4 linked regions of the Homo sapiens genome follow. The protein of the gene in region 3 purifies or fractionates together with the protein of the main gene of each other region. This does not show direct contact. Each region holds a gene or a part of one and is shown on either strand. Other genes may lie near its edges.

Region 1 (4,150 bases), on a different chromosome or scaffold from region 3:
TGAGCTGAGATCAAGCCATTGCACTCCAGCCCAGGCGACAGTGAGAGACTCTGTCTCAATCAAACAAACAAACAATACCAAACAACAACAGCAACAACAACAAAAATACTCCCCCGACCTTGTTTTGCATTGTGATATTTTCCGTTCCTTCTATTCTATTCCACCAAACAAATGCTGGCTGTGACCCATTAAATTAACTTCACTGTTTTCTAGTCGCCAACTAGCCATCCAGGAGGAAGGTGAACTATTTAAGGAAAAAGAGGGAGTTCGGGGTTAAGCACAGTGGCTCATGCCTATAATCCCAACACTTCGGGAGGCCAAGTGGAAGGATTGCTTGAGGCCAGCCGTTCAAGACCAGCCTGGCCAACATAGTGAGATCCTGTCTCTATTTTAAAAAGAAAAAGGAGTGCAGATAACCACTGGGATTGATAGATAATGCAACAGAGGATGACAGAGGGAACCTAGAAACATGGTTTAAGAAAAGAGAAGTTGGCCGGTGGCAGTGGCTCATGCCTGTAATCCCAGCAGTTTAGGAGGCCAAGGCGGGTGGATCACTGGAGGTCAGGAGTTTGAGACCAGCCTGGCCAGCATGGTGAAACCCCGTCTCTACTAAAAATACAAAAATGAGCCAGGCGTGGTGGCGGGCGCCTGTAATCCTAGCTACTGGGGAGGCTGAGGCAGGAGAATCGCTTAAACCTGGAGGTGGAGGTTGCAGTGAACCGAGATCGCGCTACTGCACTCCAGCCTGGGCAACAGAGTAAGAATCTGTCTCAAACACACAAACAAACAAAAAACAAAGAAGTTTCATTTGACTCAGTTCTGACATAAGCACAATTTTCACTCAAATATACAGAATCTGAGATGCTCTGAATCCATCCATCATTCAGTCAACAAATCACTACATTCACTAGGCTACAGCTCTGGGCTCCACCCTTTGCTGGGCAGTGTTTGGGATAGGGTGTGACAGACCCAGGTCCTGCCCTTAAGGAGCTCTCAGTCCAGTGGGGGAGACAGGACAAGGCAATGACAACACAGAGTAGTCAGGGCTAGGATGGGGAAGCAGAGAAGCCTGAGAGGGTCGAGGAGGAGCCTGCTCCAGCCTTGGGGTGTCAGGGAAGGCTGCCTGGAGGAGGAGCCACGTGACCCGGCATCTGATGAAGTCACACCAAGGACAGGGTAGGTAGCCCGCACCATCCTCTCTTGGGCGCCCCTTGGCTTGTGACCAATCCTGGATGCTCCCCTTCTCCTGGCTCAGGCTACCAGCCCTGCGACCCGCAGGTCATCTGCAACCGCGTGAACCACGTGCACGGCTGCCTGGCGGAGCTGCAGGAGCAGGCAGCGCGGCGACGCGCGGAGCTGGAGGCTTCGCGGAGCCTGTGGGCGCTGCTGCAGGAGCTGGAGGAGGCCGAGAGCTGGGCGCGCGACAAGGAGCGTCTCCTGGAGGCTGCGGGCGGCGGCGGTGCGGCGGGCGCAGCGGGCGCAGCGGGAACAGCGGGCGGCGCGCATGACCTGTCCAGCACAGCGCGCCTCCTGGCCCAGCACAAGATCCTGCAGGGCGAGCTGGGCGGGCGGCGAGCGTTGCTGCAGCAGGCCCTGCGGTGTGGCGAGGAGCTGGTTGCGGCCGGCGGTGCCGTCGGCCCGGGAGCAGACACCGTGCACCTGGTAGGCCTGGCGGAGCGCGCGGCGAGCGCCCGGCGCCGCTGGCAGAGGCTGGAAGAGGCGGCGGCGCGGCGAGAGCGGCGGCTGCAGGAGGCGCGGGCGCTGCACCAGTTCGGCGCTGACCTCGACGGGCTGCTGGACTGGCTTCGCGACGCTTACCGCCTGGCAGCCGCCGGTGACTTCGGCCACGACGAAGCTTCCAGCCGCCGCCTGGCGCGCCAGCACCGCGCGCTCACCGGGGAGGTGGAGGCACATCGCGGGCCCGTGAGCGGCCTGCGGCGCCAGCTGGCGACACTCGGGGGTGCCAGTGGCGCAGGGCCACTGGTGGTGGCGCTGCAGGTGCGCGTGGTGGAAGCAGAGCAGTTGTTCGCTGAGGTGACCGAAGTGGCGGCGCTGAGGCGCCAGTGGCTGCGGGACGCGCTCGCTGTCTACCGCATGTTTGGCGAGGTGCACGCGTGTGAGCTGTGGATCGGCGAGAAGGAGCAATGGCTGCTCTCCATGCGTGTGCCGGATTCACTCGACGACGTCGAGGTGGTGCAGCACCGGTGAGCGCGCACATGTGGGACTCCGGGGTCCCCTTCCTCATGCACCCAGTCTCACCTTCATTGGCTCAACAGTTCCCATGTTTGCTCAGCTGGAACTAGGAGTTCCAATCCCTGCTTCACCCATAGCCAGCTTTGTGACAGTTCTGCAACCTGCCTAATCTTCCTGAACCTCAGCTTGCCCACCTGTATAATGGGGGTGATATTAGTCCCTACCCAGGCTTGTGATGAACGGTAAATGAGTTCATACATGCAGAATACGAAGCAAATGCCTGGGGGTAGAGGAAGCATTCCCCCAGCATTTGCTCTTGTTACCCAGGCTTACATTCGCCAAGCATGAAATCAACGACCTATGCTTCTACAGGGACACCTCAGCCTGGCCCCTCTGCTGGGAGGCCTCCCATTGCTTCTGCATAAATGTCACCTCCCTAGCTACTAAAATAGCTCTGACTCTTGTGATTTTCCATTGTTTCATCCTGTTTTACATTTCTTTGTAGCACTTACCATCCCATGACATATTGTATACTGACTTGTCTGTTGGCTGACTTAGCAATGAGTTGTTCAATTAGTGGGTGAACAATGCCTATTCCCCCTCTGCACCACTCTGTCTGAGCATCTTATTCATCCATACATTCATTCAGCAGGTGTTTACTGAGTGCCTATGCCTTTCTAGGTCTTGTGCTGGGCACTGCTGGAAACACAGGGCTGCTCCTTGCCCCTACTGTGCCTGCAGTTGCCCAGTTCTTTGAAACATTGATTTAAAGATGGGAGGACCATGTCTAGCTTAAAGTAGACCTCAGTGGCTGCCATGTGGAGGGCAGGTTGGAGCGGGTAAGAGTTGTGGCTGGGAACCCAGAGAGGCAACTGGGCTGGGGACCCAGATGGAGCGGAACAAGATTAGACCAGGGCGGGAGGTAAGTAAACAGGCCATGGAGACTGATGGGCTGGAGCGATTTTCCAAAACAAAGCCCAGGGCTCTGGCCTGGCAGATGACAGTGCTGTCCCCAACATGGGGGCCCAGAGGAAGAACAAATTTGAGTCAGGTGGGTGTGAATAGCCCCAAGAAGGTATACAGTAGGCTTTGAGGTCGAAGACAGGTTCAAAAGGTAAGAGGTTGAGGCTGGAGACTGAGGTGTGACTGTCATGAGTTCAGGGGCAAAGACCAAGGCTGTGGGGCTGGGTGGAATCATTGAAGAAGGGTGTGAAGGAAAACCCAGAGGGCTCAGGGTGGAGTTGCTGCTGAGGAATCTCACATTTAAACATCAGGTAGAGGCTGGGCGTGGTGGCTCACGCCTGTAATCCCAGTACTTTGGGAGGCCAAGGCAGGTGGATCATATAAGATCAGGAGTTGGAGACCAGCCTGGCTAACATGGTGAAATCCCGTTTCTACTAAAAATAGAAAAGTTAGCTGGGCGTGGTGGCGCATGCTTGTAATCCCAGCTACATGGGAGGCTGAGACATGAGAATCGCTTGAATCCGGGAGGCAGAGGTTGCAGTGAGCCACAATCGCGCCACTGCACTCCAGCCTGGGTGACAGAGCGAGACTCTGTCTCAATACATACATACATAAATTAATTAAATTAAATTAAATAAGTTAAATTAAATTAAATAAAATAAGCAGCAAGTAGAAGAGAAGGAGCCCACAAAGGAGGCTGAAAAGAAGGGTGGATTGAGAATTAGGAGTAGAACCAGTAGAAGGTATTTCATAAAACCAAGGTCCGCAGGGTTCGGGTGTCTGAGCATCTCCATCCTCCTGCAGATTCGAGAGCCTGGACCAAGAGATGAACAGCCTGATGGGCCGCGTTCTGGACGTGAACCACACAGTCCAGGAGCTGGTGGAAGGAGGCCACCCCAGTTCAGATGAGGTGCGTTCCTGCCAGGACCACCTCAACAGCAGGTAGGAGGGCCTGGGGCTGGGAGTCCCTCCCATCCTTCCCTTCCACACTCAC
Region 2 (4,150 bases), on a different chromosome or scaffold from region 3:
ACCCTGTCCGGCACGCTTTGCATATGATGTGGCTGTCATCTTATGTCTGGCCTGTGCTGTCACCCACCGGGATGTCCACCCACAAGGGCAGGGCCTGGTCTAGGCTGTTCTTAACAGCCACGTGGGTCAGGGAAGCGTTCGTTGGCTTTGGGCCCAAGAGGTGGGGTGTGTCTGTTTGCGTGTGTGTGCATATATGTGTGTCTGTGGGTGCATGTTTGCATGCATGTGCATGTATGTGTGCGCATGTACGTGTCTGTGTGCATGTGCCTGCATGCATGTCTGGGGGTGCGTGTGCATCTGTGTGCGTGCCTGGGTGTGCGTGTGTGCGTGCGTGCGTGCGTGCATGTGTATGTGATGTGTATGTGGTGTGCGTGTGTGTGCGCGCATGTCGGTGTGCGTGTGTGTGCGTGCATGTGTATGTGATGTGTATGTGGTGTGCATCTGTGTCTGCATGTGTCTGTGTAGCATGTCTGTATGTGTATGTGGTGTGCGTGTGCGTGTGTGCGTCTGTGTGTGTGCATGTGTACGTGGCATACGCGTCTGTGCATGTGTGTGCATGTGCGTATATATGTGCAAGTGCGTGTATGTGTGTCTGCGTGTGTGTGGATGTGTAGGTGACGTGCATGTGTCTGTGCGTGTACGTGTCTGTGTGCACGTGCGTGTATGTGTGCGTCTGCGTGCATGTGTGCGTGCGGTGCAGGGAGAGAGGCGGGAGGGGTCGTGAGCGGCGGATGCTGGGGCAGAGAGCAGGACGGCGCCTCCCCCGCGGCGGGCAGCTCACCTGGTGAAGCGGACCTTGCAGATGTTGCACTCGTAGGGCTTCTCGCCCGTGTGGGTGCGGATGTGTCGCGGCAGCTTGCCGGCGCCCTGGATGACCTTCTCGCAGATGGGGCACTTCTGGAAGGCCTTGGCTCGGATCTTCTTCTCCACCTTCTGCGACCAGGCCGGGTAGACGTCGCCGTCGTGGGCGCCGCTGAAGTACTTCAGGTAGTAGTCCATGACGCCCTTGTCGTCGGCCCGCGACTCCTCGTCGCTGTCCCCCGCCGCGGCCCCCGCCCGGCCCACCGATGACATCATCTGCTGCAGCAGCGTGCTGGCCGCCAGCCCGTCCACGTCGGGCCCGTCCCCGTCCTCGCCCTCGGCCGCTCCCGACAGGAAGCCCGGAGAGTCGCCCGGCTCGGGGGCCGCCTCCGACAGCGAGGCGGCCTCCTCCTCTCCGCCGCGGCCGTAGTGGCCGTTCTGCGTGGCGGCCGGCGGGGCCACCGGCGGCGGAAAGAGACCCCCGGTGGGGGCGTCCTCATCCCGCTCTGGCCACAGACCCGGGTTGCTGTCGCCCTCGTCCCCGTCCCCCGTCGGGGGCCGCTCGGCCGGGGGGCCCGGCCCATAGAAGTCTAAGCCGTTGCAGTCGCCCGCGGCCACGGCGGCCACAGCGGCGGCCACGGCCTCCTTGGTGGCATCCAGGTCATCATCGGACGCCCCAAAGGCGGACCACGGGAAGCTGGCAGCGGCGGCGGCGGCCGCGGGGGGCAGGCTGTTCATGGGGTTGCTCTGGAAGAACTCGAGGTACTCCTTGGCGCGGAGGAGGTTGCGCTGATCAATTTGATCTACAAGGTCCAGCTGCCCGGCGTCGGCGCCCGCGTCGGCCGCCAGGATCTGCCGGTCCAGGAGGTCGGCGCACACGTGGCTCACGGCGGGGATCTCCAGCAGGCGGGCGGCGCTGAGGATGTCACCCACGTTGGCTGTGCTGACGGTGAGCGTGGCCGTGTAGGCGAAGTCCATGAGCGCGGTGAGCGCCTCGGCGCTGACGAAGTCGATCTCGTACACGTTCTGCTGGTCCACCACGGCGCCCGACGTGAACAGCTTCTTGAAGTACTGGCTGCAGGCGGCCAGCACCGAGCGGTGCGTGGGGAACTCGCGGCCCTCCACCAGGATCACCACGTCGCACAGCAGGCCCTGCGTCCGCTGCTCGTTCAGCCCACTCAGGATGTCGCTGCTGTGGTCGGGGAACGGGATCCCGATGGGGCCGTCCACGCCGCCGGCCATCTTCCGCGCCGAGACCTGCAGCAGTGGGGAAGGAGAGGGCGCTCGTGAGTGGGGGTGCGGGGGTTCCTGTGCCCACTGACAAGGGCCCGAGGCCCTTGAGAAGCAGCGTTCCACCCTGCTCCCCCAGCCTCACATTCCCACCTGCACGTGAAGGCGGTCAGATGTCGCGCCTTTCCAGCCCCAGCTTCCCCAGCTGTGCACCAAAGCGATACATGCCCTGCCTCCAGCCTCTTTTCTTTTTTGTGTGTCTTTAATACAGAGACAGGCTATCACCATGTTGGCCAGGCTGGTCTCAAACCCCTGGCCTCGGCCTGGCGCGGTGGCTCACGCCTGTAATCCCAGCACTTTGGGAGGCCGAGACAGGCAGATCATGAGGTCAGGGGATGGAGACCATCCTGGCTAACACAGTGAAACCCCGTCTCTACTAAAAAATACAAAAAATTAGCCGGGCGTGTTGGCGGGGGCCTGTAGTTCCAGCTACTCGGGAGGCTGAGGCAGGAGAATGGCATGAACCCAGGAGGCAGAGCTTGCAGTGAGCTGAGATCACGCCACTGCACTCCAGCCTGGGCAACAGAGCAAGACTCCATCTCAAAAAAACAAAACAAATCAAAAAACCCTGGCCTCAAATGATCCAACCGCCCCTGCCTCCCAAGGTGCTAAGATTACAGGCATGAACCACGGCACCCGGCCAAGACTGTTTTCCATCTGTGCATGAGGATAGCCAGATGTCCCGGCTCCCCAGCCTCAGTTTCCCCAGCTGTTCCCAAGTGCAGTCAAATGTCCTATCCTCTAGCCTCAGTTTCCCCAGCTGTGCATGAGAATGGTCAGATGTCCTGCCTCCCCCAGCCTGTTTCCCCAGCTGTACACAAAAGCAATCAGACGTCATGTCCCCAGCCTCAGTTTCCCCAGCTGTACAGGAAGGCAATCAGGTGTCCCACTCCCAACCTGTTTCCCATCTGTACACAAGGGCGGCCAGCTGTCCTGCCCCCAGCCTCAATTTCCCCAGCTGTGCATGAGGACAGTCAGGTTTCCTGCCCCCCATCAGCCTCAGTTTCCCTAGCTGTGCCCAAGAGCAGTCAGATGCCCTGTTCTGTCTCATCAGCGTGAGATGAGGCTGGCAAAACCCACACTGGACGCTTAAATTTCACAAGCACACTGGCACCACCCCTCCGAGGAGGGCCCCCGGGAATGCCTGTTGAAAGGGCACTTTGAGGCCCGGCTCGGTGCTCACGCCTGTAATTCTAGCATTTTGGGGAGGCTGAGGTGGGCAGATCACTTGAGGTCAGGAGTTCAAGACCAGCGACCAGCCTGGCCAACATGGTGAAACCCTGTCTCTACTAAAAATACAAAAATTAGGCTGGGTGTGGTGGCTCACACCTGTAATCCCAGCACTTTGGGAGGCCGAGGCGGGCAGATCACCAGGTCAGGAGATCGAGACCATCCTGGCTGACACAGTGAAACTCTGTCTCTACTAAAAATACAAAAATAGATGGGCGTGATGGCACGTGCCTGTAATCCCAGCTACTCGGGAGGCTGAGGCGGGAGAATCGCTTGAACCTGGGGGGTGGAGGTTGCAGTGAGCCGAGATTGCACCACTGCACTCCTGCCTGGGCCACAGAGCGAGACTCCGTCTTAAAAAAAAAAATCAGCCAGGCGTGGTGGCGCGTGCCTGTAATCCCAGCTACTCAGGACGCTGAGGCAGAAGAATCGCTTGAACCCGGGAGGCGAAGGTTGTGGTGAACCTGGATGGAGCCACCGTACTCCAGCCTGGGCAACACAGCGAGACTCGGTCTGAAAAAAAAAAAAAAAGAAAAAGAAAAAGAAAAAAAAAAAGGGCTGGGCACTGTGGCTCACATCTATAATCCCAGCACTTTGGGAAGCCAAGGCAGGCGGATCACCTAAGGTCTGGAGTTCAAGACCAGCCTGACCAACATGGTGAAATCTCGTCTCTACTAAAAATACAAAATTAGCCAGGTGTGGTGGCGCGTGCCTGTAATCCCAGCTACTCGGGAGGCTGAGGCAGGAGAATCGCTTGAACCCGGGAGGCGGGGGTTGCGGTGAGATTGCGCCATTGTACTCCAGCCTGGGCAACAAGAGCGAAACTCCG
Region 3 (4,150 bases):
CACAGATCTTGCTGTTTGTCATCATCCACACAAAGGGTCCCTACATGAAAACATATCCAGGGTGGAGAGAATTATAAGAGAATAAAGGCCTAGACCACATCTGAGTAATCAAAGCTACTTTAAAATAAGCTCTACTCACAACACACTTTCTAATTTTTAGAAAACACTACAATCTTACAGAGAGATCTGATGATTAACACATTAATGCTCCTTGGCTATTTCTCAGATATACTCTCCACATGTTTTTCTGGTTAAGTAGCATGATATGCTACAACCCATTTGAAGAAAGCATTGTTTTGCTCTACTACCAGAGTCTCAATCAAAGTTCAAGCTCTCAACCTACATCTTCCTTTCTCTATGGCCTTTCTTCACCCATCACTATCATAACTATAGCTTTCGCTCCTGGAAGAAAACTGATAATAAAGCCGAGTAAGAGAAGGGGCATTCTCTATAGGCCAGGATGGATCTGGACAGGGCGTAGTGCCACTGAGGATACTGTTCCCACATTTGAACAGCTGGCCTAAGGAGAACCGTGCTGCAGAAGAGTCCAGTGCGGAGGCCATTCAGTTGTGCCTTTGAGAGATGCTGCTGCTGATTTTGTATTTAGAAAGACCTCCCAAGAGCAGACCAGGAAAAATCCCCTGATGCCAGGCCACTAGATAGAGTTTCCAGGAACACCAGATCATTATAGTTCCCTTCCCCCAGACATGGAAAAACACCCAAAATGTAAGTTTCCTACCATTCTTGGAAATGATCCCTTTGAAGAGAATGATACTATTTGCTTCCAAAAATCAATGGCTATTCACAAGCAGAGTGGCTGGAGAGAGACTAAAGAATTCTTAGAGAGACTTCTCCCCCGTGCCCTGCAAAAGGGAGTCTCTCGTCGTCTCTGGTCAGAGGTGCAGAGTGCCTTCCAGGACCCCACCCACAGAAACGTGCAGATGGAGTTGGCCTAAGCAGCGGGAGGGCGCCTACCTGTGTAGCCAGCTAGGGCAGCAGCAGGAATGACAGGCTTGTCCTTATTGAGGTCAGCACGGTCCCGCACATAGTCCTTGAAGGTGCCCTTGGGCTTGTGGTTGGGCAGGGCAGCCGGATAGTCCTCTGAGTCGAAGCTGTCATAGGAGGGAACACGCTGCAGGCTGTTGAAAGATGACTGGCTGCTCCAGGACTGGGTGAGGCGATCACAACTATCGTAGCTCTCTATGCTTTCAAAAGAGTCCTGGCCCCCGAGTTTACCTGGAGGTAAAGGAGGAGGTAGGAAGAGGACAGGGGGAGGAGGGAGTGGGAAAAAAAAAAAACTGTAAAAACCCTCTTATGGAGGACAGATTGCTAATCAGATCTGCAGGAAGGACGGAAGAAGGGAGAGGCGAGTGGGAACAGAAGCTTCAGGGGTCATGGGTTTACTCTGAGGAAAGGGGCTGCACTAGGCCACCATCCGAGGGTCCACGGCCACTCTGCTGCCTGGTTTGAGAACTCCAAGTACAGAGATTCAGAGTCAAACGTTGCTCACATCTGTCGGAGTAGCGTTTGGGTCCTCAAGAGTTCTAAAGCCAGAAATCTAGAAGCTGAGGATCACACATGTTATGATATGATTTCTGGCTGATGTCGTAGGCCCAATGAATAAATGAAGAAATCAGAGCAATGTCAGGCTGAATTCCCCACTCCAGCTCAAGCCAATGAGATGACTTCAAAAGGCCCAGTTTGGAAAACATTTTGGTCATAAGAAAAAAGAATCCCATTAGACTAAGAGCAGATTAGCCTGTTTTGACCTTGGAACTAAGTGCTATTTTTTAGCATTTTTCCCAAATACTATTTTAATATGAAATACATGTACTGACCCTATGCCTTTTCAAATAGAGTAAGATGGTGTAAGATGCTTTTCCCAAGAGATTTTTTAAAATCACACACACTATCACTCTTCTAAACAGAAAACCATATTCTTTATCCTCTCCAAGTAAAATTATGTACTTGAAATTTAAACTTCATTGGAAAAGTGTAGGCAATATTTAAAAGGTTTATTAAAGAGTTAAGGTCCACAGCAGTGTCAGAAATCCTTTACTGTGTGAGTTGCTTAAGGCATTCTTAACTGACCACAAGATCATGCAAGTTCATTAATTTCCCAAACCAGGTTATAAACAGCTGCTATGATTGCACAATAGCTCCTGGAGAAATTTCCATTGGCAAAAATGCCACTAAAAAGGAGGCTAGCAAAAAAAAAAAAAAAATAGTTTTGGAGGAAAACAAATGAATCTAAGAGCGAAAAAGGCTCGCAGGAATGGTTTTTATATGCAACTTTCAGATACTTTTCAAGTAACCTAAGTTAAATCATAGGAGACTAGATGGTCACCTCAATTCAGCACAGGCCAAAAGGCAAAGGGATGTGACAAATGTTTACGGAGAAATATCCGTAAGTCAACTCTTAATTGTTCAGGGGTGGTTGATCTATAAATTTCAAATCCCAGAATAAGGCTGACTTATACAACTTCATATTAGTGTGCCTCCAGTGTATTTTTCCCTCCATGACAGCGGAGATTGGTTAAAACAATAAACATCAAACATGAACAGATGCCCAAACCTAAATTAAATATATAGGAAAATATGTTGCTCCCAACATTGTTTAAAGATCCGGATAAAATGTATTCGGTTGAGTGTGTACTTTTTGTAAAATCCACTGCTGTGGGTTTTCTCTACATCCTGACCCCCTCTGGAACTGCTTTAAACAGAAAGGTGGTGTCATCCGTTTCATCTCATTCCTTCCTCCACTCATCCATTCAGAGGAGGGTAATCTCTGGAAAGCAAACTGAAGAGCTTCATGGAGTTATCAGCCCTGCCCACCCAGTCCACTAGCAAAAGGGCACCTCTTCATTCTTACTAAAAATGAATATATATTTCTTTATAATTCTTAAAAATTCTTTCCCATTTACCCACCAGAAAAGTCATCTTTTTCACCTTTTTAGAGATCATTTAATTTTCTTTCAAGAAATTCACACTAAATGATTTAAGAAAACAGCCTACAACCAGAATGTCAAAGCCTTGTTTTAGCAGAACAGGAAATTCTGTGGCGTCTCATAAAAAGGTATTTGTTCATACCAGCTACTGATCTTCATGGTCACTTATTTTCTCTTTGAGACAAACATACCAAAAGCCTAAGAAGGAGAATTTATATTTTCATCAACACCGCACCAAGTCGATAGTATTTATGCTAAAGTCTCTCTGAAATGATTCCATTTCTATCAGCCAATTTTATACTTGGAGAAAAAGGACATCAGAATTTTCACAAGCAAGATAGTAGAGTTTCCAAGGAGTCCCACTAAGCAAGGGGACTAAACCAAGCCAGAACCAGTCTCTGGCAACCCCCCAAACATGAGGCAAATGCAACCCTGTTGAGAGTTGTGGTTTACAGCGGTAGGCAGCTTTCATTTTAGCTCGATTTCACAACCCTGGTGCTGGGAACCTTCATTTACGGGTATTTTCTCCAAAAATGGGTAGAATCCAACTGGATTAGATACTCAGTTATGCTGCTGCGCTCATGTAGGGAAACCTGTGTTCTCTAAACTGTCCACTAGCCAGCCTTTCTGAGAAGGGCCTCGGCGAGCTCCTTCCAAAGCTATCTGAGTCCACCAAACAGACCTCAGAGCACTCAAAACAGAAGATGCGGCAGCACCCAGCCACCCACTGAGTAGACTCGTACAAAGACAGTCCTTAGGGCCCAAATAAGTGGGGCATAGAAGCACTCTGTACGCTGTAATGCAGCCCGTGAATACTGTACTATGGTTAGTATAAATAACAATCAGCTAACAGTAATGCTTTCGGTCTAGACCAATCACAGCATCTCAGAATCAATTGGCCCTTTGCATAGGCCCTGTTTGCAGCACTTCTAACATGCAGAAAACAGCCCTGCACAAAATGGTCTTCCCCTCAAGTTTCTGTGGCCTGAACTTGGAGGGAGGGAAGAAGAGTGGAGCCAGAAAGAAATACCTCATGTCTCCTTGTAAGGGTCACTTTTGGTCCACAGTCATTAGTTTGGGGTTGGAGGGGTGGTAGGGACCAAAACCAAGAATGAAGAAAAGGAGAGGGAAAGAGACAATTACACAAATGCAAAGCCAGATGCAATTTCAAAACAATGTGACAGGAGATCGACCCAAAGTTA
Region 4 (4,150 bases), on a different chromosome or scaffold from region 3:
TTGGTATGAAATGAGAACTTCGAGGTGGGGAAACCACAGCAGAGGAAAGGAGATGAGAATATGCAGGTCATACTGGGGAGGGGAATATCTGGTTGTATAGTTCAGCTGAATAGTGATGGGCTTTTGTGGCACACAGGCCATATACAGCTTTCTTCTTGCCACAGTACACTCAGTTACCTGATTTCATTGAAAAGGTTAGAAATCTGTTTCAACCCTGGCTTGCTGGGTAGTAGATAGATGGTTTAGGAGAGAATTTTTTTTAGTCAAAACTGATCAGGCATTGACTCTTTCTCTGCAACTAACTAGCTTCTGGATATGGGGCAGATTTTTCCCTTACTTCCATTTTTCTCATCTGAGAAAGCGGGTGATGACCACCAACTCTGTGGCACTTAAATGAAGTAATGCATACCAACTGTCTAGTGTGAAGCCTGGTGGACAGTAAACATACAGCAAGTGTTCCCACAGTAATATTTGCATTTTGTTGTGGAGACTTTTTAAATGTTGGGCTGAGCAGTTAAAATTGAAGTAAGCCAGATAATGCAAATGAGGTATTTTTTTCTTCAAGTAGTAGAATCATCAAAGCTGTGATTAAAGATAATTCTTGCATCAGGGAACAAGGTGGGTTAGAGGGAAAAAAAAAATCAACTAGAGACATATCAGTTAAAAGGCTATTGCTATTACAATAGCTGTAGCTTTGTAGCTTGAAGTAAGAACCAGAAGAAAGTAGTAGCAGGAGAAATAAAAAGGAGTGGACACATTGAGGAGGCTGTTCAGAGGAGAAATGTATAGGACTTAGGAGCTAATAGTAGAGAGATGATCAGGAAAAATAAGTATTAAGGTGAAATTTTAGACTTACATCAAAATGATTAGGGTAATGTTGATGCACATTACATGGGCAGTGAAGAGGCAGCTTCCAGTCTTTCATCCATTAAGGTTTAGGTACTGATAAAACATCTGGGTAGAATTTTTCAGCAGTGATGGAAAGCTTTGAAAAACAAAACAGAAGATGTGGATTTGGGAATTACCTCCCTAGAAGCAGGAAGAGATGGCATCATCAAGGGAGAGGAGTATAGAGAGGCATTATGAAAAACAAACTTTAAATAGGTATATAGTATGATTTTTATTCATTATGTAATGAAAGAAAAGGTAGTAGTGTCACTGAAAATAACTTTTGGCATTAACTCTCATTCTGATAGAATGCTTATTTTAACAATAAGTTATTTTTTTTCTTTCATGGTTAAAACAATATAGGTGATGAAACAACATCTCAGGTAAGGGGTTGACTACGCTTGGCTTTTTACCTTAAAAGAAGAAAACATTTGTGATTTTGGTATTATTTCAAACTAATGTCTGATTCTGTACCAAAATGGTGAAGTATATAGTTTATTCTCCTTTGCCACCCAGGGATTCTTTATGAAAGTTTGAAAGCACTGCATTTCCAAAAGACAAGGTTTAGAGAAGTTCTAGAGTAATTGATAAATGGAGAACTGTCAAATGAGAACCATACATATTAGTTCTGTTTTGTAAAAGGGAGGGTGAAAAGTGAATTTAAGTCTATAAAAATGAATTATATGTAATTCTCTAAATTCCAGATATCAGATCCCATGATTTCTAGGCCTGCCAGTTCACTTAAATGGCATTAACCATTATTTTTTTAAATTATTGATGTTTGGATTCAACATTTCCTTTTAGGTGTTTCAAAATCTTGAGTGCTAATGGTGAGGCAAAAGTATTCAGACCAAGGGACCGTGATGATATTGTAAAAACTGTGATTGAACCGATGGCATCAGAAGGCTTGAGAACCATATGTCTTGCATTCAGAGATTTTCCAGCAGGAGAACCAGAACCAGAGTGGGATAATGAAAATGATATTGTCACCGGCCTTACATGCATTGCTGTTGTGGGGATTGAAGATCCTGTGAGACCTGAGGTGGTGAAACATTCTGTGTTCTGCATGTGCAGAATCTCATAACTATAGAGGACCTAGGCCTTAATTGTAACCAGTTTTCTAGTAAAATTCTTGGTGTTTGTGATTTTTTTTTTTTCTGTGTGAACCCAAGATAAATGAAATAATAGTACCTACAGTGCATATGCTAGCTTTTATGGTTTTTAAAGACAGTGTCTCTTTGGGATCCTATGTGTTCATAGCACCATAACCTAGCACAGTGCCTTGAAGTGGGTAGAATTTTCAGTTATTATTTATCTTAAATTAAATAATAGGTGCCATTATTTGTTTTCACAGTCTCTAGACTAGCATTGTCTAGTAGAGCTTTCTGTGATAATAGGAATGTTCTGTATATTGTTTAGTACAGTAGCCACTAGCCATGTGTGAATACTGACTTCTAGTTTTCAGTGGCTAGTGCAACTAAAAGACAGGATTTTTAAATTTTATTTAATTCAAATTAAAATATCTTGCTAGTAGTTGTCATATTGGATGGCATGCAGCTCTAGACTGATTTCCCTCTTTAATTTTTTTTTGCTATTTGGTTTTTCACCTTTTTTAAGTTTGTTGAACAACTACTGTGTGCCAGGCACTATCCTAAGGTACTAGAGACTTAAGAGTTTTGAGATCTGATCACCGGCCTCAAAGAAGTTACTGTCTTATGTGGGACGAACCAAACACGTGATTATTGCAACCCAAGATATTACTACCTTGCTGGGTATATACAGAGCATGTTATATGAGCAGAGAACACGAGTTCCCAACCTAGCCTAATAGCATCTTTTTATTGAGTTCTCACTGTGTGCCATATACTTAAGCCATGTGTTTTACAAGTAATTTTTTTAAATGTCTACCTTTATGAGGTATGCATATTATTACTCTTATTTGGCAGATTTTTAAGAATCAAAAATGTATAGAGCGTTAGACATGTTTAAAAATACATTTTTAAAAAATCGAGAATGTATAGAGCATAGACCTAGTGTGTTAAAATACCAGCTTTGTCTAAAACACATGTGCTTAAAAGACTACTGTACTGTATTGACCACTGGAGGGGTCAGGTAAGACTTCCTAGAGGTTAATTACCTGATCTGATTCTTAAAGAAGGAGGAAGTATTATCTAAACCAAGAAAGAGAGCGAGCAGTTAGGTATATTCTGAGCAAAGAAGCAACATAAATAAAAGCACTAACAGAAAACCACTTTTGTTCAGTGACTTTATCAGCTAATTGATTCAAAACCTAATGTGTAGCACTCTTTTAGGAGCTGGAAATACTGCAGTGACCAGAATAGGCTTGAGATTTATATTCTAGAGGAAGAAGACAGCTAAGTAGGTAGAATGATAGATACATGGACACCATGTCAAGTGAAAAATGAATTCTGGGAGGAATAAGACTTGGTCCCTGTTCTCATAGGCCTTAAGATATTCTGGGTGGCAGGGTGGCATATCAGGGGGGATGATATTAAATAAGACAATTACAAGTGCAGAAGGGCTATATAAGATATGCACGGTGTAATGAAATAAAGTAATGGAGAGAGACTGCATTAAGAATTTCTGAGGATGTGGCATTTGAGTTGCAATCTGATGGTTCATAGTGGGTCTGCCATGTAAATAGCTGCAAGAAGAGCATTCCAAGCAAAACGAGAAATGCAAGTGAAAGTGAGAAAAGTAGCTATTTTAAAGGTGGAAAAGAGGCCAGTGTGGCTATAAATGTAAAGAAGAAAGGGGAGACGAGATGATCTCTGGCCTTACTGGGCTGTGAGGACTCTGAATTTTCTGAAATTCAGGCTGGGAAGTGACATGATTTATGTTGTTAAAATACTATTTTGGGTACGTGTAAGACAGGGATTAGAGATGAAGAAGAGTAGAAGCAGGGAAGCTAATGAGATTATTGCAGTGATCCCAGGCAAGAGATGATCATGGCTTGGCCCACAGTTGTGGCATAGGAGATGGAAAGAAAAGAATGATTTCAAAGTAAGTGGAGATAGAACCAGTAGGAAGTAATATGTTGGGTTTGGATACGCTGTTTTTGACATTGTTGAGGTGTCTGAGACATCCAAATGTATGTCAAGCATTTGGACCTCAGAGCCTGAAAGTGGGCTAGTCTGAAGAAATCACTGATGAAACTAAAGATATTTAGAGAAAGTGTGTAGCTAGGGAAGAAGGCTTTTATGACTAAGAGGTTGCCACAATTAGAAGTCTTATAAAGGAGA

Evidence for each region.
Region 1: the proteins of ETS1 (region 3) and SPTBN4 purify together in Homo sapiens (affinity purification with mass spectrometry; one large-scale study listed by BioGRID and IntAct). This does not show direct contact.
Region 2: the proteins of ETS1 (region 3) and ZBTB7A purify together in Homo sapiens (affinity purification with western blotting; one study listed by BioGRID). This does not show direct contact.
Region 4: the proteins of ETS1 (region 3) and ATP2B1 purify together in Homo sapiens (affinity purification with mass spectrometry; one large-scale study listed by BioGRID and IntAct). This does not show direct contact.

The regions. Positions count from the first base shown.
Region 1 is NC_000019.10:40,511,351-40,515,500, forward strand, and holds part of SPTBN4 (spectrin beta chain, non-erythrocytic 4), read left to right. Parts: intron 1-1,255; coding exon 1,256-2,204; intron 2,205-3,960; coding exon 3,961-4,098; intron 4,099-4,150.
Region 2 is NC_000019.10:4,053,190-4,057,339, forward strand, and holds part of ZBTB7A (zinc finger and BTB domain-containing protein 7A), read right to left. Parts: intron 2,333-4,150; exon of another isoform or gene 2,320-2,332; coding exon of another isoform or gene 2,185-2,319; intron 2,059-2,184; coding exon of another isoform or gene 2,044-2,058; coding exon 782-2,043; intron 1-781. UniProt on the Homo sapiens protein: Transcription factor that represses the transcription of a wide range of genes involved in cell proliferation and differentiation.
Region 3 is NC_000011.10:128,479,216-128,483,365, forward strand, and holds part of ETS1 (protein C-ets-1), read right to left. Parts: intron 1,237-4,150; coding exon 976-1,236; intron 1-975. UniProt on the Homo sapiens protein: Transcription factor. Directly controls the expression of cytokine and chemokine genes in a wide variety of different cellular contexts. May control the differentiation, survival and proliferation of lymphoid cells.
Region 4 is NC_000012.12:89,614,582-89,618,731, reverse strand, and holds part of ATP2B1 (plasma membrane calcium-transporting ATPase 1), read left to right. Parts: intron 1-1,692; coding exon 1,693-1,930; intron 1,931-4,150. UniProt on the Homo sapiens protein: Catalyzes the hydrolysis of ATP coupled with the transport of calcium from the cytoplasm to the extracellular space thereby maintaining intracellular calcium homeostasis.